7 linked regions of the Homo sapiens genome follow. The protein of the gene in region 3 purifies or fractionates together with the protein of the main gene of each other region. This does not show direct contact. Each region holds a gene or a part of one and is shown on either strand. Other genes may lie near its edges.

The links.
Region 1: the proteins of SLC2A10 (region 3) and DHCR24 purify together in Homo sapiens (affinity purification with mass spectrometry; one large-scale study listed by BioGRID and IntAct). This does not show direct contact.
Region 2: the proteins of SLC2A10 (region 3) and JAG2 purify together in Homo sapiens (affinity purification with mass spectrometry; one large-scale study listed by BioGRID and IntAct). This does not show direct contact.
Region 4: the proteins of SLC2A10 (region 3) and RNF122 purify together in Homo sapiens (affinity purification with mass spectrometry; one large-scale study listed by BioGRID and IntAct). This does not show direct contact.
Region 5: the proteins of SLC2A10 (region 3) and GALNT11 purify together in Homo sapiens (affinity purification with mass spectrometry; one large-scale study listed by BioGRID and IntAct). This does not show direct contact.
Region 6: the proteins of SLC2A10 (region 3) and ENPEP purify together in Homo sapiens (affinity purification with mass spectrometry; one large-scale study listed by BioGRID and IntAct). This does not show direct contact.
Region 7: the proteins of SLC2A10 (region 3) and TM9SF3 purify together in Homo sapiens (affinity purification with mass spectrometry; one large-scale study listed by BioGRID and IntAct). This does not show direct contact.

The regions. Positions count from the first base shown.
Region 1 is NC_000001.11:54,870,196-54,873,695, forward strand, and holds part of DHCR24 (delta(24)-sterol reductase precursor), read right to left. Parts: intron 1,419-3,500; coding exon 1,155-1,418; intron 1-1,154. UniProt on the Homo sapiens protein: Catalyzes the reduction of the delta-24 double bond of sterol intermediates during cholesterol biosynthesis.
Region 2 is NC_000014.9:105,154,978-105,159,196, forward strand, and holds part of JAG2 (protein jagged-2 isoform a precursor), read right to left. Parts: intron 2,787-4,219; coding exon 2,729-2,786; intron 1,013-2,728; coding exon 761-1,012; intron 646-760; coding exon 585-645; intron 1-584. UniProt on the Homo sapiens protein: Putative Notch ligand involved in the mediation of Notch signaling. Involved in limb development.
Region 3 is NC_000020.11:46,722,852-46,727,070, reverse strand, and holds part of SLC2A10 (solute carrier family 2, facilitated glucose transporter member 10), read right to left. Parts: intron 2,031-4,219; coding exon 747-2,030; intron 257-746; coding exon of another isoform or gene 208-256; coding exon 85-207; intron 1-84. UniProt on the Homo sapiens protein: Facilitative glucose transporter required for the development of the cardiovascular system.
Region 4 is NC_000008.11:33,560,215-33,564,433, forward strand, and holds part of RNF122 (RING finger protein 122), read right to left. Parts: intron 1-4,219. UniProt on the Homo sapiens protein: May induce necrosis and apoptosis. May play a role in cell viability.
Region 5 is NC_000007.14:152,023,508-152,028,481, reverse strand, and holds the start of GALNT11 (polypeptide N-acetylgalactosaminyltransferase 11), read right to left. Parts: upstream 2,809-4,974; 5' UTR 2,650-2,808; coding exon of another isoform or gene 2,598-2,649; intron 1,513-2,597; exon of another isoform or gene 1,448-1,512; intron 886-1,447; exon of another isoform or gene 764-885; intron 1-763. UniProt on the Homo sapiens protein: Polypeptide N-acetylgalactosaminyltransferase that catalyzes the initiation of protein O-linked glycosylation and is involved in left/right asymmetry by mediating O-glycosylation of NOTCH1.
Region 6 is NC_000004.12:110,478,748-110,482,966, reverse strand, and holds part of ENPEP (glutamyl aminopeptidase), read right to left. Parts: intron 1-4,219. UniProt on the Homo sapiens protein: Regulates central hypertension through its calcium-modulated preference to cleave N-terminal acidic residues from peptides such as angiotensin II.
Region 7 is NC_000010.11:96,517,197-96,521,318, forward strand, and holds the end of TM9SF3 (transmembrane 9 superfamily member 3 precursor), read right to left. Parts: 3' UTR 914-4,122; downstream 1-913.

The sequences.
Region 1 (3,500 bases), on a different chromosome or scaffold from region 3:
TGGGCTACAGAGACCCTGTCTCAAAAAAAAAAACAATAAGAAAATAAATAAATAAAAATAAATAGGTCTCGAAGAATGCACACAAAACTGTTATACGTAAGTGGTTACACCCTGGCGTAAAGAGATGCACTTTAACTTTTTCTTTATATATTTCAGCATTGTTACATTACTTTTATAATTTAAAAACTTTCAAAAAAATCCATACAGAGAAAGAGGAAATAAATACAGTTGTCTCTCAGTATCCATGGGGGATTTGTTCCAGGATCCCCCAAAATCCATGAATGCTCAAGTCCCTTACATAAAATGATTTAGTATTTGCATATAACCCTATGCACATCCTCCTGTATACTTTAAATCATCTCTAGATTTCTCACAATACTTAATACAATGTAAATGCTATGTAACAGTTAAGGAATAATGACAAGAAAAAAAGTCTGTCCATGTTCATTTCAGATGAAACCATCCGTTTTTTGGCCCCTGAACGCTTTCAATCTGCAGTTGGTTGAATCCACTGTTGTGGAACCCACAGATACAAGGGGCCAACTGTGTACCAAACACATTAGCAACACTGGCTTTGGGACATATTTACAGGTGGAGTCTTTTCTTTCCTTTTTACTTGTTTGTACCTTCCAAGTCTCTTACAATAAGCACAAATCCTTTCCAAGTCTCTTACAATAAGCACAAATCCTTTCTAAATGGAGAAAAAACTGCTAATAAAAATTGCATGGTATATGTGGAAGGAATGTCAATCTAGATTCCAAGGCATCAAATCGATTACTCGAATCTTGTGGAAGTTTACATTACCTCTTTTAAGTGTTGGGATTACAGGTGTGAGCCACTGTGCCCAGCCTACATTACCTCTTGAAGACTCAGTTTCCTCATCTATAAAATGGGTTTGCTATAAGGACCAAAGATTACATCCACTAAGAGACAAGCACATCCCAGGCAGGTGGTAGGGGCAGAGTAGATGAAAGCTTCCATCACTGTCTAATACATTTCTGATGATAGATCCTGTTGCCTGTACCCCAGGTGGGTTGACCCAGGCAGCAGCCTTGAAGAGGTGGCTGCCAGGGTCAGGATACGGGAACCGGCTCAGTCCTAGCACACTCATGCCTCCCCAGTCTTGGTCAGCAGCAGCTGACACCCTGGCTTACCTTGCTGGGCTCTGCCTCATCTGTCATGACCCCTGTCATAATGACAGCCTCATCCAGGGAGTAGAGCAGCCCTTCCACGAAGTGGTTCTCCTGCCGCTGGGACTCGTGGGTGAACTTGGCACAGATAGCCTCCAGGCCCCGCACTGGCTCGAAACGCAGCTTGACGTACTTCTTGGCAGGGATGATGCGGATCTCAGCGGCCACCAGGAAACCCAGCGTCCCACAGGACCAGGGTACGGCATAGAACAGGTCTGAGTTTTCGGACTGTGAGACAGAATTGATGTGTTGTGAGCTGAAACCTTGGGCCCCACATTGTGGCATGCAGTCAGTGGGGGAGCAAAGCCTGGGAGAGTCCCTATTCTCTCACTCTCTTGTATAAACCCAAACAATGAGCTTTACAAACTGTGCTTGCTGGGCTTTAGTTTCCTCCCTGCAGCTTCGACATGACATGGAACCTAATACTGCCCTCTGTCTCAGGGACCCTCACTGAGAGAGCATCCTCCTTCTCCCATCTAGGTACAGCCCCTGACCCAGAGGCTATTCAGGAAAAAGCTGGGACTGGCACTGCTGCCCAACGACCCACAATGGCAGGGGCATTGCACAAGGGCAGGAGTCCAAGGCCAGGCCTTGACACCCTTTAGTGGGTGTCAGGCAGTGTAGCTGGGGAACATTAAAATGCCTCCCTTCTGAACCATTACTAAAATTTACAAGGCCTTTCCCAGTCCATCGGCTTGTGGGATCCACCCCCGACAGAGCCCAGGGAGAGCGCTAGCACCCCCTTATGACAAGTAAAGAAACTGAGTCTCTCAGAGCTGCCATGACTCACCAAAGTCTTCCCAGAAAAGTCAGCTGCAGCAATGCCAGGGCTCAGGCAAGACCACCTAACTCCCCGGCCAGCGTTTTTCCTACAACACCTCATCTGCTTCCATAAATCAATGTCCAACCTCATCATTTTATTGTTTTGACATTTGTCTTGGACACAGACAACTGACTTTTCCTTGGCCATTCTGATTGGGATTCTTCAGTTCTAGTAAAGAAAGCTCTTTTGAAAAAGTCCAGCCATGTCTTGCCTTTACTAAGAGGACAGCCCTGTGCAGTCTCCACAAAACCTGAATGCTCTTGGTGGTGGGCACAGTGAATGCAGCAGGGCAGGAGAGCTGGAGCAAGGAGGCTCTGCAGCAGGCTGGCAGAAACCTCAGGAACAGCAGCACTACGCTCACCAATTCCCCCTTGGGCCCACAGCTAATCACATTCTCCTGGCCATGGCAGTGAAGATGACACACTTGCTGCATGCTGAGCTCTATGCAAGGAGCTTCCCATACAGGACCTACTTATTCCTCTCAACCACATATTTGTCAGTGAGGAACCTGGGCCTCAGAGAAGGGAAAGAATTCACAAATGTCAGTCTCCTTTCTCTGCCGATAATAAATAGGTCAAAAGACAGGGCCCCGCAAGCGTTCAGGAAAGCAGGATGAATTGATGTGAATCTTGCTAGGGGTATCTCTCATCCAAGACCAGTGCTGCCAAGCTGGGAGTCTTTCCTTGGGCCCTCTTCTGTGAAGTGAAGGAGTCGGGTGGCTCCCTGAAATACCCACTTCAACAGGACCAACTGTCCCTCCCATCCCAGGGGTCCCTCACACCTGCCAGGACAGATCCAAGGTTATTTAAAGTGTCACTCCTATCCCACCCCTTAGGTAAAACGCTTTAAATGTTTGAATCCCAGTTTGGGTGGTAGAAGTGTTTCTTATTTTTCTAAAACATCCTCTCTAATCACTTTTACTTACACGATTACGTGCTACATAAAGACGTTGCAGTCAACAATGGGCCACAGATAAAATGGTGGTCTCATAAGATTATAATGGAGCTGAAAAAGTCCTGTTGCCTAGTGGTATCACTGCTATCACAGCTATCCTAATGTCATACTCATGTGTTTATGGTAACACTGGTGTAAGCAAACCTACTGTACTGCCAGTTGTATAAAAGTATAGCACATATAATTATGTACACTACATAATACTTGATAATGATAAATGACTCTGTCATTGGTTTATGTATTCACTACACTACACTTTTAATTGTTATTTTAGAGTGTACTCTTTCTGCTTATTAAAAAAAAGTTAACTGTAAACAGCATCAGGCAGGTCCTTCAGGAGGTATTCCAGAAGAAGGCATTGTTGTCAGAGATGACAGCTCCATGTGTGTTATTGCCCCTGAAGACTTTCCAGTGGGACAAGATGCGGAAGTGGAAGCGTTATTGATAATCTTGACTCTGTGTAGGCCTAAACTAACATGCGTTTATGTCTTGACCTTTTTTCTTTGAGACAGGGTCTTGCTCTGTCACCCAGG
Region 2 (4,219 bases), on a different chromosome or scaffold from region 3:
CTCCCCATCCCGCTGGCCCCTCCCCCACCACCCCCACATGCCCCACAGCGGCCTCCCCCTCACAGCCTCCCGTCTGGTGCTTCCCCACTCAACAGCTACCACAGCCCTTCCACCCACCTTGCCCAGCTACAAACCTGCCAGCAGCCCCTTCCTCTGTCCCTGGTCCTGCAGGCCTCAGCTCCCACCACTGGTCTGCTCTGCCGCCCCTCGCCTGCTGGTGTCACTTGCCGGCCGCTCGCCGCCCACCCCCTCCCCATGGGCAGGGTTACCGTGTCCTCTGCCCATGCCCCATCTCTGGGTGGCTTGCAGCCTCCGGGTCTCTGCCCCTCGGTGACGTGACTGTCCAGCCAGCCTCCCCAGTCTCTCCTCACTGTCCTCACATGGCTGCCGCCATCAGACACATCCCATGCTCAGACACGCACCTACTGCACTAAGGAGCCTCCCGAGCTCAGGGCCCGGCTCTCACAGCTGTGTGCCCAACCTCCAGCCAGCTCCGGGCGACTCCTGACAGCAAGGCTGTGTGTGCCAGTGAGGACGTGAGGGCAAAGGTTGGGAGGGCAAAGACGGGCCGGCGGCACACTCACCTGCACTCCCCAGGCACGGTGCATCCCCCGTGGAGCAAATTACACCCTTGTTTACACACAGCTGCGAACAGAGAGGAGCGAGAGGCACAGCTGCAGCCAGCCTGGCCGCAAGGCCTGTGCCCGGGGCCCTGCCCGAGGCCCTCCCTGCCCTCCACGCAGCCCAGCGGCCCCCTCACCTTCCTTGCACTCCTTGCCCATCCAGCCGTCCATGCAGGCCTTGTTGCCGTACTGGTCGCAGGTGTAGTGGCCGAAAAAGTCGTTGCGGGGCCGGCAGAACTTGTTGCAAGTGGCGCTGTAGTAGTTCTCGTCGCAGCGCACGCGGATCTGCAGCTCCAGGTGCGCCACGTGGCCGCTGAAGTGCAGGCTCTTCCAGCGGTCCTCCGGGTTGATCATGCCGGCATGCGACACTCGCTCGATCAGCAGCTCCTCTTGGGGAGGCGGCAGAGTCAGCACAGGCCAGAGAAACCAGCCCGGCCAGGGGTCCTCCAGGAACAACGGGGACGGGGCAGAAGCCTGCGGCTGCTGCAAGGCCGGGGCACAGCAGGCAGCAGCACACGGAGGGCAGGGCCCCCGGCCAGGCTGCTACAGAAAGCTCAGGGCCCCGAGAGGCCTCTCCCTCCCGCCACCAAGCCTGCGCCCCGCTCCCACCCTAAACGCAGAGGGTCGGGGGGCCCGGCTAGGGGCTAGGGGCCCTGCAGGGAGGGCTGCTGAGACCACAGGCTCCACAGAGAAGGCACGGCTGCTGCCAGGGCGTGAGTCTCACGTCCCACACCTGTGCCCACCCACCTGCAGCCCTGCTCCAACACCTGCACCCACCTGCGCCGTGTCCAGCCCTCGACAGCACGGACATGGTGCTCAGTTGCCCTCCCCTCTCCTGCGCTGTGACTTGCTCCCAGAAGTGCCAAACACCACTACCGTCCCCACCTTAAGACAAGCCTCCCCTCAGGCCCCCAAGACAGGCATAGGTCCCGTGACCCGCTGTCTAAGCCTCACTTTAAGTAAGCCACCAGGAGACCAGGGGCCAGGGGCACCACAGCTGCTGGCGCTGGTATGCAAAGTCCGTGATGCCGGTCCCTGCGCTTAGGCACAGGCTCGACGTTTTGCACAATAAAAGGTGAACGGGTCCTCCAGACCCCACCTCTCCCGCCTCGGGCCAAGGCCTGGGAGGACACTGTGCTGGCCCACTCCCCAAGGGGCGTCCCGGCCGCCCCAGCCTCTCCAGGCTCACGTTGTCAAGAGCCCTGACGACCTTGCTTGGGACTCAGCCCACCTGTCTCTCTGCCACCCCCTCAGGAAACACCCCTGCCCTGAGCCGCTGGGGTCCCCACAACTGCTGCTCCCCACCTGGGCACCCCCACCGCCGTCCCTGCCCTGAAAACAGCCCCTCCACTCTGCTGGCAGCCAGGATGCCCTGGCCCCGCTCTCCCTCCTCCAACCCATTGGCCAACCCCATGCCTCCACTTCTGAGAGCCCCTCTCACCCCCAGACTGCCCCTGGTCCAAGTCACCCTGACACGCCCAGATTCACGTGGCAGCTCCTCCTCGGTCTGTGTCCTGGCCCCACAGCCCACCCTCCATAAGGCAGCCACAGCTTGCCAGGCGGAGCCCGTGTCCTCTCAGTGGCTTGCCAGCCTCCATGATCTGAGCCCAGCCCCGGCTGCTCCCCCTGCACAGCCAGCCCGCTCCTGCCCAGACCTTCACACGAGCTGCTCCCTTGGCCTGTGGGTGCTTCTGCATTCACCCATGGAAGTCATCCCGTTACCCCTGCAGGGCCCTGCAGAGCCCCTGCCTCAGGGAGAGGGCCACCAAGGCTCCATGCTCCAGTACAGACAAGCAGAGGGGGCCACAAAGCCAGAGACACACTCAAGGGTGTCCCCTCCACTAAGTCACTGCCATGGGCCCCAAAAGAGCACACCCAAGAGGAGAACAACATAGGCAAAGCCAGGACTGGGGAAGAGAGTGCATGCACAGCTCTGCAAGTCCCAAACGTGGCAGAGCTTCCTGGCAGCCAAAGCAAAAAGGGAAACAGCACACATGATCCTCAGGGTAAAGCAAGGCTTTGTCCCAAGCAGACAGAGGAGCTGGGCCCTGCCACAGGCACGCTGAAGCTGAGAGGAGCTGCCACCTGGCCCAGGGCTCACTCACCATTCGGGGTGGTATCGTTGTCCCAGTCCCAGGCCTCCACGATGAGGGTAAAGGAGCGCTGCAGACATGGGGAGGCGGGTCAGGTACCTGAGGCCACACCTGCCTGCCTCGTTCAGGGTGGGACAAGGCCCAGGGCTCAGACGCTGCCCCTGGGTCTGCCAGGCTCTGGCCCTTCCTCCCCAGCCAGGGACCCACCACCCTCCTCATCCTCAGGCCACATCCTCTGCAGACCCAAAAATGACCCAGCTCAAGGGAGGGAGACTGCCCCTCCAGGCCACGCGGGCTCAGGGGCCTGGGCTCCCTACCGTTGGGGTGCCAGAGGCCCAGCCTGCCCTGAGCTGGCTCAAGTCAGCACGGAGCACAGGAAGAGCGACCGGGGGGAGAGGTGGGCAAAGGGCAGCCTGGCTGGAGTGGCCACAGACAGGGGCCCCATGGGCAGCCGGGACCCGAGCGTTTCCTGTGGAACGCCCCTTGGTGCCTCACTGGGGGTGACCACGGGGGAGAACGTGGGGCCCCATCACCACGCTGGCGGCCTCCACCAAGTGCACGGGGTGGCCAAGTACAGGGCGCCCAGCCAGAGGCCCCAACAGGCCGGAGCTCAGGTCCTGCAGGCATACAGCACACAGGCAAACCCACACCTACCTCCACCCTCACACAGAACAGGTGGCAGGAGGGGCCCTTGCGGTACAGTTGGGGAAACTGAGGCCAAGAGGTCCTGGGACTGCCCAGCACAGCCTCAGACCATGGCCACTATGCCCCCTCTGCCCCCGGGCCACCTGGCCCTTGTACCCCAGCCATGGCGACAGGCGATGCTGTCAGCCAAGCAAAGAGACCACAGGGCTGGCCCCCTGCTCCGCCTAGTGCAGCCCACGGAGACCGTCACTCACAGACATGCTCAGACAGGTGGGACCCCCGGGACATGCCCTGTACTACCCAGCACTGGGTACCCACATTCCACAGCCTCTCAGCCCTCACTGCCCAGGAACCCCCCAGTCTACCCCTGGTGTGCTCTTGACCCCTGAGCCCAGCCCTGGCTCCTTCCAGGTGGGGCCCAGAGGAGGGGGCTGGGGCTGAGTCACCTCAGGGCCTGCTGGCTTCCCACCCCGGGGGGATGCTGCGTTGGGCAGTGTCCAGGCAGGCCAGGCTCACTCCATCCCTCAGCACACCCCATCCAACCAGCCCCAAGGCCTGGCTAAGCTGGGGAAAACCACACTTCCCCAGCAAGGCCCAACCCCACGCCTGCCAGCCCTTCCCTGGTCCTCACCCGCCGCCCACCCCACGCACGTCCCAGTGCCTCGGCCTCATCCAGCTAAGGACAGGCCTGGCCTCCCAAGATGTCTCAGAAGACTGCACTCCCACGTCCAGCCCCTCCCCTAACCAACGTGCTACCAGCCACACCCAGCCCAGCCTCCAGGACCCCCACCCAGTCCCCCGCCCCACACCTCCGACTGTCCCTCAAATACAGACAACTAGGGCCCAACATGACTGCTG
Region 3 (4,219 bases):
ACATAGGAAAATCCAAAAATTTCTGCTTTAGAGTAGGGAGCTTGGGCCACAGAAAAAAAACGGACTTGTCTGGGAAGGACTCACCAATGAGATCGAGGAAGGAGAGGCTGATGAAGAGGTTGGCCGCCCAGTTGAAGCTGTTGCAGAAGGCGAAGGCTCTTCCTCGTATCTCCACAGGGTAGATCTCGCTGAGGACAAGCCAGGTCACTAGGGTGGGAGAGCAGGAGGGCTCCTGGGCTGTGGTGGGACCTGGGGCCTGGCACCATCAGGTCAAACATGCAGCCTCTCAACAATGGGATTTTCTAGTGTCAGGCTCCTGATACTAAACTCCCACTCCCATTCTGCTATAAGAATTACAGTAGAGTCTCAGTTTGCTGAAGACTGAGAGGTTTTCTGAGACATGAGACTTTCAATGCCGAGATGGGAACAGTCTTGGACGAACTGGGATGATTGGTTTTCACGCTATTCATTAAATTCCTTCCAGTTGTGAGCTATCCGGGCTTTAAGGGACCTGAAGCTCAAATGACTTGGGGAGGCTTTTAAGGAATACAAATTACAAACATAAAATTAGGCACTGGCCCTGGGAGGAGCAACTGCAGGTAAGTGAGGGGCCCTGAGGCTTCATGGTCAACCCACCTCTAGTGCCCCACTGACACCCTGCCAGGTCATCAGGGTGGGAAGTCCCCAAACTTCCCCCTAGGAGGGGTAGAAGTCTCCAGAGTCACCTGCAAGAAAACTCCACTTACCTGGCCCAAACCCAAAGGAGAAGGCACTGACAAAGACCATCAGGCACAGCAGTGCGGTCCAGCGCAGCAGTGCATGCCCCCGAGCGGGCAGAGGGGGCCCAGGGAGGGCAGAGCTCAGGGCCAGCCGAGGAGGGGCTGAGGGGTCTCCAGATCTGGGATGGGGCTTGGTTTTCTTAGCAGTGGACAAGATTGGCTCCCTTTGGTCCTCATTGGTCCTTGGAATGGGAGGTAGAGAGGAGTCCTGCAGCAGGCCAGAGTCTCCAGGGAGGCCTGTCTGCCCGGTGGCATTGGGCACAGCCAGACAGCTTGGGCCTGAGTCCATGGGCACGGCAAAGCTGACGAGGCCTATGCCACTGACGGACAGGGCCATGAGGGCACAGCCAGCTAGCAACAGAGCCCTGCGGCCTGCACGGTCCACCAGCCCCATGGCGGTCAGGGTAGCTGCCACCTTCACTGCGCCAAGCCCCACAGAGGCCAGCACGGCTGAGGATCCCCCATGGAAACCAACGGAGCTGAAGATGGTGGAGGCATAGCACAGCACGTTGGGCTGCCCTGTTAGTTGCTGGAAGAGCACCAGCCCCAGGCCCACTGTGGTCCGGCCTCGCATGTTATCGCGTGCCCTGAAGAGGTCCAGAAAGGAGTACCGTGGCCTCCCCGGGCCCAGCTTGGGGGCCTCACCTCCCTGGAGTGGGATGAGGTCCTTGTGTGTTGCAGTCTCATCTGTACCAGCAGGGAGGAAGAGGAGGCTGAGGGATTGCAGGACAGCAGGTGCAGTGGCCCAGCCGAACATGTGCCTCCATCCCCAGGGGGTACCAGCCAGTGCATAGTTGAGGGCATAGGAGAGCAGGATGCCCACGGTGATGCCTGCCTCATAGAGGGACACCAGCACTCCCCGCTGCCGTGGCCCCACCAGCTCTGACACGTAGATACAGCAAGCCATGGAGGAGAGGGAAATGGCGAAGCCAACCACAGCGCGGCCCAGGACCAGCCAGGCCAGGGAACCAGCCAGGCCCAGGGTCAGGCTGCCTGCCAGCAGCACCAAGTTGCTCCCGAGGATGGCTTGCTTCCTGCCATAGCAGTCAATGAGGAAGCCACCAACCAGGGAGGCGAGGAGAGCCCCCAGGAGCAGGCTGCCCACCAGGAACTCCTGCTCCAAGCAGCTTAGCCCAAAGTCAAGCTGCAGTGGCAGCAGGGCACCTGATATGACTGCCAGTTCATAACCAAAGGTCAGGCCACCCAGCAAAGACACAGAGGCACACAAAGGCAGGACAGGTGGGGAGTGGCCTAAAAAACAAAAGTGAGAGGGACAGAGTTAGAATGGTTCCTTGTCATACCATCCATCCATTCAACCTTCCCTCCATCTGTCAACACCTTCATTTATCCATCCATCTACTCCATCTATTCAACCATCCATTCAAACCATCCATCCATCCATCCATCCATCCATCCGTCCATCCATCCACTCCATCAATTCAACCATCCATCCATCCATCCATCCATCCATCCATCCATCCATCCTTCCATCTGTCCATCCATCCACTCCATCAATTCAACCATCCATCCATTCATCCTCCATCCATCTACTCCATCTGTTCAACCACCCATTCAACCATTCACTGATCCATCTATCCATCTATCCATCCACTCCAACCATCCATCCATCCATCCATCCATCCATCCATCCATCCATCCATCCAACCACCATCCATCTACACCATCTGTTCAATCATCCATTTAACTATCCATCCATTCTTCCATCCACTCCATCTATTCAACCACCCATCCATCCATCTATGCATCCTCCATCCATTCATCTACTTCATCCATCCAAATATTCATCCATCTGCATGTCCATTTATCTATACCTTAATTCACCCAACCATCCATCAATTTGTTGATCAGTCTATCTACAAATCCATCCATTCATCCACCCATCTCTGTATTTCATCCCTTTGTATACTCATCCACACATCAGTCCATCCATCCATCCATCTATCCATCCATCTAAATTTATTTATCTGGCATTTACAACATGCCAGGAAGTGCTCTTAGGGCTGGAATACAGATGTGTTGTCCAGGATCTAAAGTTCTAGAAGAAATAGGAAGATGATAAATAAGTATATAATTTCAGATAGTGAAGATGTCATAAAAAATGAAGCAGGGAAGGAGAATTAAGGTTGATGGAGTAGTACTATTTTAAGGCCTCTCTGAAGAGCAAAAATTTGAGCAGAGATTTGAGTGACATGAAAGTCCCAGGAAAATCTGGGAGAAGAACATCCTAGACAGAGTGAACACAAAGTACAGAGGCCCTGAGGTAGGACAGTTCTTGGTGTTTGAACAACTATGGATATTAATGGTTAGTACTTATATGGCCCTTACTAAATGCCAGAATCTGTTTTAAGAGCTTTATATGTATTTTCTCATTTAATTGTTACAGCTACCCTATAACATATCATCCTCCAAAGTGCAGAGAAGTTAAGAAACTTTCTCATGGTCACATAACAAGTAAGTTGTAGAGATGATGTGGCTAAAGTGAGGACCTTTAATCACTGAGGTAATCAGACAGGAGGCCAGAGGCTGAAGCCCAGTGAGTGAGAGTGATGGGAGATGATGAGGCAGGAGAAATAGGCAGGGGCCAGATCATGTGGGGCTTTGCAAGTCAAGAGGACAATGAGGAATGTCATTCTCAGTGGTTGGAAGCCTTTGCTGGCTTCAGCCAGGAATGAGGTGATCTACTTTTATTTTTCATTTTTTATGAGTCCCAACAGGAAACAAATCGGTCATCTATTTTTAATTTTTAAAATATTGCTCTTGCTGTTGTATGGAGATGCTAAATGAGGTGAATGTGGCCCAATCAATGTCCATTCACCCCTTTTTCTTTGGTATCAGGACTACATCCAGCTAAAAGACTACATTTCCCACCTTTCCCACAGCTATTGGTGGCTACTAAGATGGAAGAGGGAGTTTTTTTGGTGGGACATTGAAAAAAGCTCTCCAAGAAGAGGGTGAGGAGGGAAACAGCTGGCTAGATCTTTTTTGCCCTTTTTTCTAGCTCCCTTACCTCTTGCCTGGAATGCAGGTGTGATGACTGGAGCTTCAGCAGCCATCTTGGAACATGATGGGGGGTAACCATGAGGATGCAAGCTACACACCGACATAGTAGGATGGAAATATAGAAGAAGAATGGGTCCCTGATGGCAGTAAGCCTACCATACCAACAATGGATTGTCAATCTCCATATATTTTTATGTGCTAAGAAGAAAATCCCAACAATTTCTGACTTAGTGAAACTATGCTATTTCCAGTTTCTATTCCTAGCAGTGAAACCAAAGAGCAAGAGCAAACCCAGGTTGGAAGGCTAGTACAAGGGTCCAGGTAAGAGTGCTAACGAAAACTAAGAAGAAATGCTATATAGCAGGGAGCTGCCAGTTAAGATCAATGAGGAACACGGGCTGCATGTGAGACAACAAAGA
Region 4 (4,219 bases), on a different chromosome or scaffold from region 3:
AGATGCATCCCTTCTCACAGGACTCAGGGATAAATACTGACTGGCCTACTCATCATGATAGTCACCTCTCCCTTCCCCCCTTGCCAGTATTTGGTGTTCAGGTGGGTACGTAACCAGGTTCTGAGCAAAGAAACAAAGAGATCTGCTGGAAAAGGAACTTTGCTTGTTTGTTTTTGGAGACAAGGTCTCACTCTGTCCCTGCAGGCTGGAGTGCAGTGGTGTAAACATGCCTCACTGTATCCTCCAACTCCTGGCCTCAATGAGATCCTCCTGCCTCAGCCCCACAAAGGGCTGGGACTATAAGCATGAGCCACTGCACCCGGCAGGTTCTTTTTTTCCTTTTTTTTTTTGTGAGGGGGGTCATGTCTCTCAGAGACACCTAGAATTGTGATAGCCAAGCTGTAGCTGGAAAGAGCAGCTCAGTAGAAAGTCAAATGCTTGACCAGGCATGGTGTCTCACGCCTGTAATCCCAGTACTTTGGGAGCCCGAGACGGCTGGATGGCTTGAGGTCAGGAGTTTGAGATCAGCCTGGCCAACATGGTGAAACTCCATCTCTATTAAAAAATTAGCTGGGCATGGTTGCACACATCTGTAATCCCAGCTACTCGGGAGGTTGAGGTAGGAGAATCACTTGAACCTGGGAGGTGGAGGTTGCAAGTGAGCTGACATCGTGCCACTGTATTCCAGCCTTGGAGACAGAGCAAGACTCCATCTAAAAACAAAAACAAAAACAAAACAAAAAAAGTCAAATGGCTGAGGATGGCAGAAGGGAAAGGGAAAGAGGGGAGTCCTTGATGAAAGGGAGAGCTGGAATTTGCTGTTCACCTGCTGCATCCTAAGCACATTCTCATGCTATCAATTTAATCTTTGTACTGCCACAGTAAAGGTTACTTCCCCCCGCCAATGGGAAAAAGACTCAATCATTTAGTAACTCGCCCACAGTCAAACAGCTAGGAAAGCCCAGCTCCAAAGGGTTCTCTGTACCCAGGCCTTGGGTTCTAGGCACTTTCCTGACATCTTGGTTAGGAGCCAGGATGCATTCACATGCCACAGAATTCTATACGCTAATAACCAGTGCTACTACAACTCAGCAGAAGGTGGCTTGAAAGACTGGAAGTCAACTTGGACATCAGTCCTCCTCATCCCTTACTGATGACTATATAACGAGCCTCCATTCAAACCTCTTTCAGGCTGTGCCCAATTCTACTGCCACAGCCCTATTGTAAACACTCATCACCTCCTACTGTTTCCTAGTTGATGTCATCCCTGTTTCTAGTTCCTTCTCTCATTTACCCCACACGCCTGACACATCCTCCTAGTTGCCTTTTTTTTTTTAATTTTTTTTTAGACAGTCTTGCATTGTGTCACCCAGGCTAGAGTGCAGTGGCACTATCTTGGCTCACTGCAACCTCTGCCTCCTGGGTTCAAGTGATCCTTCTACCTCAGCTTCCTGAGTAGCTAGGACTATAGGTGTACACCACCACGCCCAGCTAGTTTTTGTATTTCTAGTACAGACTGGGTTTCACCATGTTGGACAGTCTGGTCTTGAACACCTGACCTCAAGTGATCCACCCGTCTTGGCCTCCCAAGAAAGTGCTGGGATTACAGCGCATAAGCCACTGTGCCCCGCCCTCTCCTTGTCGTTTTGATCTTGTATTTTACAAACTCATGACTGGCTTCAAGTCCTCCTAAAACATTCACCCTGTCCCTTCACAACTTCCTACTTAAAAGTTCTCCAATACTACTCCATGTGGGCCAGTCTTTTTCACTATTTCTTGTACAATCTTGTCCTTGCCTGCTTCCCTGTCTTTGTTTACACAGCTTTCCCTGCCTGAAACGCTCTCTCTGAGGCCCATCAAGCCTGTGATAGTCCAATAACCTCTCTTCCTTCAATTCTACAGCACTCATGACCTCCATCATTTGTTCGGCCCCTACTTACTCAGTTAACTGTCTTACATCGTTCCTAGCATTAAGTTACTTTAACTCAAATGTGCATTAAGCATTGATTATATGGTAAGTACTATTAAAAGAAAGCACAGGCCGGGTGTGGTGGCTCACACCTGTAACTCCAGCATTTTGGGAGGCTGAGGCAGGAGGACCGCTTGAGGCCAGAAGTTCAAGACTAACCTAGGCAACATAGTAAGACCCCCACCTCTACAAATAATAATAATGATAAATTAGCTGGGTGTGGTGGTAAGTGCCTATAATCCCAGCTACTCAGGAGGCTGAGATGGGAGAATCACTTGAGTCTGAGAGGTCGAGGCTGCAGTGAGCCACAATTGCACCACTGCACTTAGCATGGGCCAGAGTAAGACCTTGTCTCAAAAAAAAAAAAGAAAAAGAAAAAAAAAAGATTAGATGATCTGATGATCTTACCACATAGGAAAAAAAGACACAAAGATTTTCACCATAGAAAGTGAGGCTCAGGCCAGGTGCAGTGACTCACGCCTGTAATCCCAACACTTTGGGAGGCTGAGGTAGGCAGATCACCTGAGGTCGGGAGTTCAAGACCAACCTGGCTAACATGGTGAAACACCATCTCTACTAAAATACAAAAATTAGCTGGGTTTGGTGTCTGGCACCCGTAATCCCAGCTACTCGGGAGGCTGAGGCAGGAGAATTACTTCGACCTGGGAAGCGGAGGTTGCAGTGAGCGGAGATCACACCACTGCACTCTAGCCTGGGCAACAGAGAGAGACTCCCGTCTCTAAACAAAACAAAACAAAAAACCTGGGCATGGTGGTGCACACCTGTAGTCCCAGTTACTCGGGAGGCTGGAGCAGGAGAATTGGTTGAACCCGGGAGGCAGAGGCTGCAGTGAGCTGAGGCAGAGGCTGCAGTGAGCTGAGATGGCGCCACTGTGCCCCAGCCTGGGCGACAGAGTGAGACTCAAGAAAAAAAGAAAAAAAAAAAAAAGCCTGAACCCTCCTAGGTTTGCTGACTCCAACTTGGACTTTTGTATATTCTCCAGTGTCCGGCCTAGCCTAGAGTTTGGCTTGTTCTCAATAACTAGTTAACAGATAAATAATTCCCCATTTTCTTAAAATAACCTGGTCCCCTTGGCAAAACCTCCCACTTCAAAGCAGCAGGACTGATGTTTGGGAAAATTGCCCAGAAACTGCCCTCCGCTAATGGATCACCAGTCAACCAGCAAGTATTATTGAGGGCTTGCTTTATGCACTGACCTACACATTGTGGGAAAACAGAAAGTAGAAGTTCTTGTTGTGAAAGACTTTTTGATTAAGTTGAAATGAAAGAAATAATTAGCTACTAAACTTTGCTGTGCCCAACAGGAAGTTCCTTGTGTCTAGGCTCTAGTAGGGGTTAGAGAGAAAGTGCTTTTCACCACCAGTCCCCACCCAAATATTTACTTTCTGTGGGTCAAAGAAGAACAATTTTCCATGAGGACATCATGGCAGACTGGCTAGAGTGACAAACTTCAGTCTATGCTGGAAAAGGGGCTCAGGACTTCCCTTCCAACAAGACCTGGTGCTCCCAGCTGTTTTCTCACCTCCTTCCCCCGCACTATTTGATGTTACAAGAGGGTCTAACCCCCCGTTTCCTTAGTTCTTCCAGGCACCTTTTATGAGCTGAAACCTCCTTTGGTTTCCAGTTCTGGGAACTTGCAGAACCTGGTCAGAGCTATTACAGAGGATATCTGTGCACTCCACAAGCACGATGGTCCCCGCAAGTCCTCTGATCAGTTTATCCCCACCAACTTATCCTGCCTGATAAAGGCTTCCCCTTTATCTCCCACTGATTGAATCAGTGAGCTTGGTATTTCACGTGATAAAGAGGTCGGTGGGAAGAGCATAGTCAAGAGGAGATGGTTCATTTGCTTGTGTTACTATTAAAGAAATGGCAAAATAGTCTACTGGTCAAAAGCTGACACTGTAGTAAGTTTTTCTTTAAAACTGTATAAGGACAGAGAATACCAGCCCCAGGAAAGAGGGGCTCCAGGTAGTTTCTGAAGGGGTGAGGGAAGGGTTGCTTCTTCACAGGAGTCAAAGGACAGGATCTCTCAGTCACTTTTCTAAGAAGTGCAAAGAGGGCCAGACAAGGTGGCTCCTGCAGGTAATTCCAGCATTTTGAGAGTCCGTGGTGGGAGGACTGCTTGAGCCCAGGAGTTCAAGACCAGCATAGGCAATGTAGTGAAACCCTATCCCCAAAAAGTAGATTAATTAATTAATTAATTAAAAATTAGCCAGTAGCCAGGTA
Region 5 (4,974 bases), on a different chromosome or scaffold from region 3:
CACCAATCAGTGCTCTGTGACTAGCTAACTGGGTAGCAGACTTGGAGAACTTTTCTGTCTAGCTAAAGGATTGTAAATGCACCAATCAGCGCTCTGTGTCTAGCTAAAGGTTTGTAAACGCACCAATCAGCACTCTGTAAAAACCGACCAATTAGCACTCTGTAAAACAGACCAATCAGCACTCTGTAAAACAGAGCAATCAGCACTCTAAAATGGACTAATCAGCTCTCTGTAAAATGGACCAATCAGCAGGATGTGGGTGGGGCCAAATAAGGGAATAAAAGCAGGCCACTGGAGCCAGCAGCGGCAACCTGCTCGGGTCCCCTTCCATGCTGTGGAAGCTTTGCTCTTTCATTCTTTGCAATAAATCTTGCTGCTGCTCACTCTTTGGGTCTGCACTAACTTTATGAGCTGTAACACTGACTGTGAAGGTCTGTGGCTTCACTCCTGAAGTCAGTGAGACCACAAACCTACTGCGAGGAACAAACAACTCTCGACATGCCACCTTTAAGACCTGTAACACTCACTGCGAAGGTCTGCAGGTTGACTCCTGAAGTCAGTGAGCTCATGAACCCACTGGGAGGAAAAAACAACTCCAGACGTGCCACCTTTAAGAGCTGTAACACTCACTGCAAAGGTCTGCGGCTTCATCCCTGAAGTCAGCAAGACCACGAACCCACCAGAAGGAAGAAACTCTGGACACATCTGAACATCAGAAGGAACAAACTCTCGACATACCATCTTTAAGAACTGTAACACTCACCGCGACAGTCCGTGGCTTCATTCTTGAAGTCAGCGAGACCAAGAATCCACTGGAAGGAACCAATTCCGGACACATTTACGCAGCAGCCACGTCAGACTGGGACACTTCCTGCTTACAGAGGACTATAAAACCCCTTCCTCACTTGGGGCTGATGCTATTATAAAACCCATTCCTCACTTGGGGCTGATGCCATTTAGGCATAAACCCGTCTGCACCCAGGCGCTTATTAAAACAGCATGTTGCTCCACACCGCCTCATGTCGTGGGGGTTGTTGGTGCGTCATCGGGGTTCAAACCAATACAAGAGCCTTGCAGGTTGTTTGTAGCACTAACAAAGGATAAATGCTTGAGAAGATGGATACCCTGCTTATCCTGATGTGATTATGCATTCTATGCCATATCAAATATCTCATGTACCTATAAATACATATGCCTACTATGTACCCACAAAAATTAAAAATAAATTTTTTTGAGATGGAGTCTCGCTCTGTCACCCAGGATGGAGTGCAGTGGCGTGATCTCGGCTCACTGCAAGCTCTGCCTCCTCGATTCACGCCATTCTCCTGCCTCAGCCTCCCAAGTAGCTGGGATTACAGGCGCCTGCCACCACGCCCGGCTTATTTTTTGTATTTTTAGTAGAGACGGGATTTCACCGTGTTAGCCAGGATGGTCTTGATCTCCTGACCTCGTGATCCGCTCGCCTTGGCCTTCCAAAGTGCTGGGATTACAGGCGTGAGCCACCGCACCCGGCTAATAAAAAAATTTTTAAAGAGATTTATTCTGAGCGAAATGAGTGTCTATGGCCCATGACACTGCCCTCAAGAGATCCTGAGAGCATGTACCCAAGGTGGTGGGGGCACAGCCTAGTTTTATACATTGTAGGGGAACATGAGTCTTCAATCAAATACAGGTATAGACTAGTTCGGGCAGGAAAGGTGGGACAACTCAAAGTGGCGGCTTCCAGGTCATGGGTAAGATGAGAGACAAACGGCTACATTCTTTTGAGCCTCTGCTCTGCCTTTTACTGAACACACAATTTACGCCATGGGGCAGGCAGAGGAATAGCCACTTGTGCCTTAGTCTGGCTCAGTGAATCTGCATTTTTACATAAATACAGGGCAGAGGAAGCCGTCAGACATGCATCTGTCTCAGGTGAGCAGAAGGATGACTTGAGTTCTGTCCCTGTTCCTCACCTGCGAAGACAAGCTGTCAATTTACACTGCCAGGGTGCAATTCCACACAACTGTTTCAGGGTAAAGATGTGGAGGTCCACAGCGAATTTCCTCCTGGCCAAAGGGTGAGGGAGCTGTGTGGCTTTTTATCTTTGCAGCTGTCTTAGGAACAAAACTTAGGGGCAGGTTTGCCTGACGCAGCTCCCAGCTTGACTTTGGCTTAGTGATTTGGGGTCCCGAGATTAAATTTCCTTCCACACTATTCTCCCTAGTTTTGTGTATGTGTGAACTATTCTATTTCTGGGCACTTTTAATTTTAAAAAGTGGACAATACTGATCTGGACTTCATTTTAGGAAATGCTGGGGGAGGCTGCAGGATCAGGTGTGCCTCCGTCCTAAATACGCGAAAACGAGGCCAGCGCCCTGGTCCTCGCCCCCACGCCCGCGAACAAGCCTCAGGAGACGCTGGGGGAGGCGCGGGGGCAGCGGCGTCTCCCGGAGACACGAGCCTCGCCCAGGGGGCGTGCGGGAGCCCAGGACCCGCGGGGAGCCAGGCGCTGCCCCGCCGCCGCCCCCAGCCTGCCCAGGCCCCGCGCGCCGCCGCCGCCGCAGCTCTCGAGGTGCTGAGGGACGCCGGGAGGCCGCCGCCTAGAGGGTACTCACCGCCTTGCCCGCAGCCCAGGATCGCCGCCTTCTGGGACTCGGGCTGCGGCATCTTCTCTCCCGCCACAGCCCCAGTCCGACCCGCAGGAGCGGCGCGGGCTGAACTGCCCCGGGGCCCAGCAGCCAGGCGTCGCGCAGGCGCTGGGCGCAGTGGCGGCCGCGCCTCCTCAGGCCCAGGGCCCTCGCCCAGTCCCCGAGCCGCTGCCTCCGCCCAGCGCCGCGCGTCCGCCGGCGCCGCGTGACAGGCGGCCCCGCCCCCGCGCCGCGGTGACGAAACCTCTCGCTGCCCTGACGTCACCGGCCGCCGCGCGCTGAGTCCTCCCTAGCGTTCGCGCAGAGGCGCCGCGCGTGGCCTGGCTCCTGTTGTCTGTCACCCGCGGTCTCAAAAGACCCCATTAATGACAAATGCCCTGCCTGTGGCCCCGGCTACTCCGGAGGCTGAGGCGGGAGCAGCGCTTGAGCCCGGGAGCTCTGCGCTGTATGCGCTGTGCCCATTGCGCGGCGACACGCATCTGTGTTCCGCATCGGTGTGGTGACCTCCCGGGAGCAGGGACCACCAGGTTCCCCAAGGAGTGGGGAACTGGCCCAGCTCGGAAACCGGGCAGGGCAAAACTCCTGTGCTGATCGGTAGCGGGATCGCGCCTGTGAATAGCCACTGCCCTCCAGCCTGGGCAATACAGCGAGACCCCATAAGTGAAAAAAAAAAAAAAAGACAAATGCCCTTAAACATATTAAAAGAAGTTAAACGCCACTTGTGATAGAAGAAAATGTAGATTAAGGTGTAAAGAGAGAAGTGGTGAAAAAAACACTCATACCTTGGTGATAATAGTGCAATGTATACAAATACCATAAAAGGGGAATTGGCAATTTTTAAGAAAAATGGTGTGGGCATTCATCTTTGGCCAATAATGCCAAGTTATATTGAAGAATATCTTAATACTAATCTTCTTTGCATTTCTGAAATAAATCCCACTTGGTTAAGAATATTTTTGAACTTTTTTAAAGAACTCATTGCTTCACAATTAAAGTCTGATGGGGTACACGCGTAGCAATGGAGGAACTTCTACAGCTACTATAAATTAAAGAGCACCACCTGAACCAAAGTAGTGGCCTTCTTGAGCTGAACTGAGCTAACCACATTCCCCAGCCCCTCTTCCACAGATACCCCATGGGGTTGTCAGGGTGTAGGGGATGCCATGTTGTACCACCCAGGTTTCCCCTTAAGGACTGAGGACTCATTTCTCCAGTTGTTGGGTGTGTAGGCCGCTGATGGCCCCCAGCTGAGTCTTGTGGCCACTTCCCTCAGCCAAAGAGAACTGCTGCTGGGTGCCAAGTTGAATGCTTTTGACTCCTTCTACCATGCTTGTGTCTTGATTGGAGATTGACAGATATTTCAGGTACTGGTTTCTCTTGCAAGGGCAGTGCAGACAGCACACAGGTATCTTTGCCCAGTTTCCTTCAATGGTTGCAGCTCATGTAAAATATACATAGTATAATATCAAATAAGCGTCATTGGGGATCAATCCTGCTGGGATCCCCCTCAGAAACTATTCACAGCAGTGGCAGGCAAACTAGGGCAAAGTCTACTAGGTATATTTAAAAGTGTATTACAAGTTTATTTAAATACATAAATATGTTTCCAGAAAGTAATCCTTCCAACTACCTAAACTAGTAATGAAAAATGTTAAATATCACCTTAAATATGTATAAGGGGATACTAAGTTCTTGTATTTAAACCTTATTATTTTAGTATATACTCAAGCAAAAGAGTTTGAAGACCAGACCTTTAGGGCCTCACTACTCAAATGGTGGTCCAGCAACAAGCGACACCAACGTCACCTGGAGTGTGTTAGAAATGGGGAGTCTTGTGCTCCACCTACTTAATTAAAATCTGCATTTTTACCAAGATTTCCAGGTGATTTATACACAAATTAACATTTGAAATCATGCTCTAGGATTAATCAGGGCATGTAAATTTCCATTGTTTCATCTTCTCCTGACCCTTGATAGTATCAGATATTTAAATATTTGCCAACCTGATGAGTATGAGATGCATCTGTTTATTACTTTAAATACTATTCTACCTGATTAATGTGCAATAATTACTTAACCATTATTCTCGTAATTGAGGATTTGGGTTAGCTCCAATTTTTCACTATCATACAGAATGACACTAAAATGCTCTTTTCAGCGTATCATTCTGGTTAAACACAATCTTTGAGGCCACGCTGATTAGGATCATGTAAGGGCCGTGTTATTGTTTGTCCTTGGATACAGTTGCCAGATGAAATACAGGATGGCCTGAAATTTGAATTCCAGATTAAGAATAATTTTGTGGTTTAAGTATATCCTGTGCAATATGTGAGAGGCTTGTCTT
Region 6 (4,219 bases), on a different chromosome or scaffold from region 3:
CGCGATCTTGACTCACTACAACCTCCGCCTCCTGGGTTCAAGCAATTCTCCTGCCTCAGCCTCCAGAGTAGCTGGGATTACAGGCATGTGCCACTACCCCCGGCTAATTTTTGTATTTTTAGTAGAGGCGGGGTTTCACCATGTTAGCCAGGCTGCTCTCGAACTCCTGACCTCAGGTGATCCGCCCACCTCAGCCTTCCAAAATGCTGGGATTACAGGCATGAGCCACCTCGCCCAACCTAAAATCTATTCTTTATTGACATTTTTATTGACAATGGGATAATAGCTCAGCATACTAATCTAAGAATATAATGAACAAACTGACATACGACAAAAATTTCAAGATCAAAACTACATGTGCTTGAGTATACATACACATCCATGCAGGTAAGAATACATTACACACACACACTTAATGATGATTATCTCACCGATGTTTCCACTCAACTCCTAAATCTTTATTACAAGCTCTAACCTTGTGCTTCAGACATACTTATGCAAGTGCCTACTAGTCATCTCTTCCTAGATGTCTGACAAGCCATCAACACATCTGACACTGAACTTACGACCTTCCCTTCTAACCTGGCTACTTCCCACCTATTTCCAATATCAATTGAGGTGAAGGCTAGCTGGGGTATCCTAGACCCATAACTTTAACTCACCCTTCCTCATAGTCAAGCAATCGTCAAATCTTGACTACTTTACCTCCAAACTATTTTCTCTACTGTGCCCTCTCTTCTCTATCCTGAAATCACGTTTCCTATCTGATCCTTATCTTCTCTTTCCTGGATTGCTGCAATATCTTTCATATATCCAAGTGGATGGTTGAGTTAACTCTTTCTTTTGCCATCTGTATCCAAAAAGTCATGGGGTAATTTCTCCTTCATAATGCCTATCATGGCTATTTTTCCTTTTCCTCCGTAAGGGTTTTCCTCAGTGATATCTAGCTAGCCTGTTCATATAAACTTCCCCTACAAACTAATTTTCTTGTCCCCACTCTGCTTTTCTGACTTGGTGCCTTTCCTTTTTGCCTGCTTTTAGTTTCTCACTTGTCTCTGCTGCTGAACTCCCACCAGAACATCAAAATTCAGCTTAAATCCTACTAGCGCTACGAAGAACACCTTGGCAGCCCAAACTAGAAATGATCTCTAAAATTCCGGTTGTACTTCCTGTCAATTCCACTGTTTCTCTGCCTTTAAACTACGGAGATTGCATTCCTAAGTACAAATATATATACATACACATATAAACTCTTCCCTTCCACAGGGTAGGCAGAAAAGGAACCAAGGGAAAATTTTCACCCTAAGTGGGAATGTAGAGATGTTATTGGTGGAAGTTAGGCTCGTTTATGGGAGAGAAGCTGTGGTAATGCAATGTGTCCCAGCATTTGCCAGAGGATACTAGTCATGTGAGAGCTTATATGATAATATTTTCATTTATTCCATTTGAGAATATTTGAGTGCTCACTGTGTGCCAAACAGTAAAGGAAAGACATATATCCCTACTCTTAGGAACCCCACAGAAGAATCCATAGTCACAGAGAGTTGGGAAACTACATAGAGGACATTATCATATAAAAGCCTCTGAAAACCCTGTAATCCCAGCTACTCGGAAAGCTGAGGTGGGAGGATCACTTGAACTCATGAACTCATGAGTTCAAGCCAGGAGTTCTACCCCAGCCTGGATCTCATCTCTTTAAAAAAAAAAAAGTCTCTGAAAAGTTCCATAATTAAAAACAAAATCCAAAACAGATCATTTTGTATTTAGTATTATTGCACAAACTGATTTAGCCACAGAATCTCTCCCCTGCTATTTTTCTGGTAATATCTACTAAGATCCCCATGCAACTAGAATTCTGCAGTACATACTTTGGGAAGTGCTAAGTAAGCATAATCCAAATGCTGACAAGGAAAAGCCAAATCTTGGAGAGAAGAAAATATATACTTTGGAGTTTGAGTAGAGGGAAACTCTTTTAGGGAAGGGAACAGCTGGAAATCCTACGTAACACGGTGAGAAAATGGGAAGAAGGAGGGTGTGGTCAGAGAAACATTCCAAAGGTTCCAATCCTTCCAAGTGGTTTTCCTCAGACCCTGAAGAATAGACTAGCGAGTAGGAAGAGGTAGATCGATAAAGGAAAAGCGACTGGATGTTTCTCAAACTTTCTCCTTCCACGCCCCACTACAACTCTGTCCCCAGAAAGACAATGTGGAATTCTAAATTTTGTCCCCTTTCTTCCCCATGTCTCAATCTTGAGAGAAAGCAACTTGGGTAGCTGTGAAGTTTGTGAAGCTCAAAGTCCTGATTGTATTTGCAGAAATTAAGTAATTTTGGTTACTACTGAGTGCAATCCTGTTTAGTTTGCATTGTGGTTGTCACATTAATATCCCTAACTACTAATACTCAATCCTGGAGTTACATTTTACGTTAAGGTCAGAAAATATAATTTTGACTCCGTACTTCAAATGTATTACTATGATGACGTTTAAAATGATACAAACGTCACATATGACGAAGCTCACTCTATAGTATGAAAGAAAGGCACTGCCCCCAGTGAACTCCCTCTGGTGGCCCTTATATGGAGCCTGTGGATGAGAACTCCTAGAGGCTGCATTGCCAAAATATTACTCACAGGCTAGAAAAAAAAGCATGATGCACTTTTCTCATATGCTTGAAATATTTCAGACAAGGATAACAAAAAGTATTCCATTTAGCCTAAATGAGGTTATTGAGCTGACGCCAGATCTGTTCCAAAACCATGTGTGTGCAGTACAGAACTGGCAGCATCTTTTGTAATGTGAGAGCTTCAACTGCTCCCAATGAAACATACAAACTTGGGAACACCAATCCTCAGTGAGAACTGAACTGAGCATCAGCCTTCCTCACCGATGTTGCCATCATTTCGTAATCTCCAATCAAAAGTTAAGTCAACTGAGCTTCAGAAGGGCAGCTCTCTGGTATATATTTTATGGCAAAATTAACTGGTACACTAAAATAACTCAAAGAGTGAGAGTATTTGTGTATATAATGCTTTTTTTAGACTTATAAAGTACATAATAGAAACTTATTAATGGAGACTACATAGTTCCAATTTTTGGCCTTCCTAATATGTGTAAAATTTTATTTTATTATTTTATAAATATTTTGATGGTTTTATTCAGATAAAATTTCTCTTGTCTTTATGATCTAAGAAGCAGTTTTAAAGTTTTAGCAATAATATTTAAAAAGTCTTGACTCGCTTTCACTTCAATGAATTTTTAGAATCTCTTTAAGGTGGATATTCTTCAGAATATTGCCCTTCCCTCGACCATTGGCAAACACTTTTAAAAAATCATTGTATTGTTAGTAAGGCTCAGAGGAATAGTCGCTTTCATACATTGTTGGTGGAAATGGAGTTTGGGACATATTTTTTGGAAGTCAGTTTGGAGACACACACACATGCATACACATGTTCATGCATATATATGTATATGCATGTACACATATATACACAGACATACATGCATTTATACACAGGTAGTTTTGGCCCATCTTCTAGGAATTTTCTTAAATATTAGAAAATGTCCATAAATAGTTATTTACAAGGATAGTCAATATAAGGATGCGCCTTCTTCTAGATCCTTATAGGTGAAAAAATAGGAGCAACTTAAATACTCATATTTAATGGAAAAGTGAATCAACTACATTGTAGTCATACAATGGCCTACCATGTATCCATCGAATCATTTGTGGAAGAACATCAAATGACATCTTAAAGCATTGATGCTATATTGGAAAAGCATGTTACACATTACTATGTATAATATAATTATGCCACAGCTATCTATGTCCAGAAAAGTACTAAAAGAGTCTCTGCCTAAATGTTAACAATGGCTATACTTGGGTAAAGAATTTATGGATGAATTTATGTTTTCCTATAATTTTCTCTGTTTTCTGAGTTTCCTTCAATAAACGTGTATTATTTATGTTATCAATAAACAAAGTAACTATTACAATATCTTGGTATATTTGTACACTTTGACCCAGCAATTCTATTTTTAGGACTATATCCTAACCTAAGGAAATAAACAGATGCACATACAAAGAGGTATTTAGAAGTATGTTATTTGATGATTTGTTTATAATAATAAAATACTAGAAACAACTCAAATGCTCAACAATATAATTTGTTTTAAAAAATTACAATGTATTCAAACAATGGAATATTTCACATCTTTAAAAT
Region 7 (4,122 bases), on a different chromosome or scaffold from region 3:
GAACCAAGGAGGTTGGTCAGGATTTTTAAAAACTAGTCAGAAACGGAAAAACAAAACATACAAATAGACATGGAGAAATTAACCACTGATTTCAATGTGGCACAATAAAAATAATCTCTTCCATTCGTATAGAACACTAATTTTCAATGTGACTTCTACATATATTACCTGCCTCCCAGGCTAGAGAGGGTGACACCCCCATTTTACAGTTACAATAGTCAAGACAACAGGGCCCTGAATCTTGATGACTTCTGGGCTAAACATAAGAGCACCTTTAGCTGTGGTTTCTTATCCATAAAACACAGCTATCTACTCTACCAGCTTCACAGGATGGTTGTGAAGGAACAAGTGAAACTGCTTTGAAAAAGTAGTAAATGCTAAACAAATGCAAAGAATCATCAATCAGAGGATGGCAGGCAAATAGATGGTAAAGTCTGAGTGTAAGAGTCAGAATAGGTATACAAAAAAGTCAAAAGAATGGCAATAAAAGAAAAATCATTCTTAAGAAAGACCAATCTTATTCACTGGACCATTCTCTCAACTTTACTGTATATTACAGTTCACTTTTGAAATACAAATTTAAACCTTAAATTTTAAATACATCATTCCAGGGGTTAGCGGACTATGGCCTGTGGGCCATTTTTGTGAAGTTATACTGGAACATAGCCATGCTCATTAGTTTATGTAGTCTACTATGGCTGCTTTGGTGCTACAACGATAGTTTCAACAGAGACTGCATAGCCCTCAAAGCTGAAAGTATTTACTATCTAGACCTTCACAGAAAAAGTCTGCAGACCCCTGCTTTAATTGTGGAAAACTATTACTAAGTTATTCATTTGCCTGTCAATAATGGGTTATCCCTTATGCTTGGTTCATGTTTCAAAAAGGAAAGAAATAAGGAATCCAAAGGAAGTACATTTAACTTTTTATTACTTTTTAAAAATCCAAATTCAGATAAATTAACACACTAGGTTAGAACCTCAATTGTATTTGATACATTATATACTGGATTTCTATTACTAAAAAGCCAGTTGGAATATGGCCTATACGAACCAAAGAGTGTATACAAAATGGAAGTGGTCATCAGGCAATAATTGTTTCCTTGGAACTCTGCACCGACTGTCCATGCTCTGTGGGGACTTACACATTCAAGTTTGACAGTTGAAAAACCAACTGGAGCTGCTTTTCCAAGAATGTTCTGTTGTCCTTCAAATAGAATTCCATGTTATTTCTTTCTTGCCTTAAGCTCTTATATCTTTCAAATGACCTAAGCTGATGAACTGGAGTAAACACAAACTGCTGCAGTTATCAATTAGCAAGCCTAGTTCACCAATACTTCAAAATAAACAGACTTCACAAGTTTATTTCCATTCCTAACAGTGGAATAATAACTTAATTTTGTTTACTTTTGTCTTTGTAGATTTCTGTCTGCAGCTCCAGTAAGAATGCCAAATCAGATGGCTTTTAGGAAATGCTCATAGGAGAGAACTAGAGTTATTCCTCACACTGAATTTAAGTCTTACCAGATTTCTGCAGGTTCATATGTTAACGTTCTGATCTAGCCTACCTGTAAGTCTAGTTTATTTCTGTACACACTTCCAAATACTCTTCATAAATTTTCACTTCTGACTGAAATATAACACCTTGATTGATAGTTTCATAACTATAGAATTTTAGTGAAGATATAAAACATTAATGAATACTTGTGTTTTAATACATCACTACTCCTATTTATTACATGTTCCAATAAACCAATAGAATGAAGCACTAAGACACGGTGAAATCTAAACTTAAAACCCAGATGGAACTGCCATATAGATTACAAATGGGTCTCCCCACCACAGAATTCATATACAAAAGCCCTTCGGTATGTAGCTTTTCCTGAACAAATACATTAATACACTTTTTGTTTTTTACATTTGTAAAAATTCAAGGTTTTAATAACATTTCTTTGCAAGACATTTGGTATAAGGTGGTTAATAAATATTAGGAAACAAACACTGTACCAAAATGGATATGACTTGTGAATAAACCCTAAATAAAGTGGCTTTTGGAAGAACTGGATTTTGCAGCAACCAACTTTATAAAGAGGTCCATCCACTCTCAATGGAAAACACCCAAGCATACCATTCACTAGGTTCGGATATCACCATAATATAATGAATTCTAAGAGTATGGGGTTTGATTTATGGGCAACCCCAGTACAATCTAGGAGCCCAACATGATGAAAAATACTAAAAGAATGCTTCACCATCCCTCAGGCCATTACATTTCCACCTTATCCTACTCTTGTATTAGGATATATGTATACAAATGTCAACTACTAATGTAGTTAAATTTCAGGAGAAGCATGCTTAAAGATACACAAGGAATGTTTAGCCTTAGTTTTTGATAGTATTATCCAAAGTGTGAGTTGAAAGAAATTAAGCAAATAATGTTAACAAACGAAAGACAGATACACAGCATTAGTGGGGGTATAAAAACCTCACCTTTCAATTAACTTGAATAATGTTCTATTTTCTATTCTACAACTGAGCGCTAGGGAGCTAAACTATTTGTGAATTACATCTTCTTTAAGAAGACACACACACACGCACACACATACATACACTTATTCAACCCCTCTATGCAGCCAAAAACCAATACAAGTCCTTTTCTAAAAGACTTTAAAGGTGATTAATATTCATTTAATGCTCTTAATGTATTTGGAAATCAGAAAATTATTTTTCACCACAGATTCCAAAGAACTTCAAATAGAGCTCAATTTAGTAGAAAGAATTGGTGTACCTGAAAGCATTTAACCCACACATTTTCAATAAACCCTACATCTTACCTGCAAGATTCATATCATGAGAAACAAATTTCATTTTATTAAGACAAAACCTTACTGTCCAATTTATACTCCCATCAGACAGACTATGTATTGGTATGTTAAAAGTACTTTTGAATAAAAGTGGTGAGAAAGAAACCAAAAAAGTACTTTATATATAGTTAAAAGGTTACATAATATAGGCAACTAAATATTAACTTTTAGTTTCTTTTTTATAAGATCTTAAAGGCAAGTAAGAAGGAAGAGAAAATGGAAGTACCAATAAATTATATTTAATATACCATTTTGGCTTCAGAAGAGGATTTACCTACAGCTTCTGATCAAATTTGTTGGATCATATCAATCATACTTAAGTGGTAAGAAATCATACTTTTCACCTTTTAAAGGACTTACATGTCACAATATAGGATGTAGAGTCCATCAATAGATAGGTACATATTTTGTAATGAAAACATCTTGTGTAACTATTAATTGCATGATTTTCATATTAAGGTTTAAATACAGGTGTTTTGAGTCTTTCTAAAAATAACAATATAAAGTATTGTTTTAGGTGGTCATTTGCATAGCAAACTATTAAACTAGAAACTCAGTGGTTCTAGGAAAACTTCATATTATGAATAGTTCCAGAAAAATGTATTCAAATCACTTCTCTTACAAAACTGTAACCTTTATTTGTTGATCCAACAGTACGTTAACCACTTTTACCCCATCCCCACTTTACACGGTACACCAACCTGAACAGATTTTGTGCCACAATTTCATTCAAAGGGTTTGTCATTCACTTTATGATTGTGCTGGATAATCTAGATGTAAGCAAGTCTGGAGATTTTAAAATACGGGTCCCCTGTATGAGAGTAGCATAGTTTATAGCATACTTTTAAAAATGGCATTCGGTAATTTTGCCTTCTGGACAGAAAGATATCTTCAAATTGCAAACACATCTATTTCCACAAAACAATTTGGTCAGGAAATTTTATTTGAACATTCTAAAGCAATAATGCTTTAGATGTTACTTAAGTGTCCCAGACAGGATTAACAAAATTAAGTGTCTCTAAATTACAAATTTGGCTCCTGTAGGAGTCTCAGAAAATAAACAGAAGAAAACAACCCCCCTCCCAAAAGAAGTATGACACACACATTTTGAAGAAACCCCAATGTTTCATGCAATGGTAGGCAAGATGTAAAAGCCCACCCAAATCACACATTTCTACACCAATCATCATAAGAAAAAAGTACTCTGTAGTCGATCTGTACATCCAAATGCATTTGGGAATCTACACCTACGTTACATT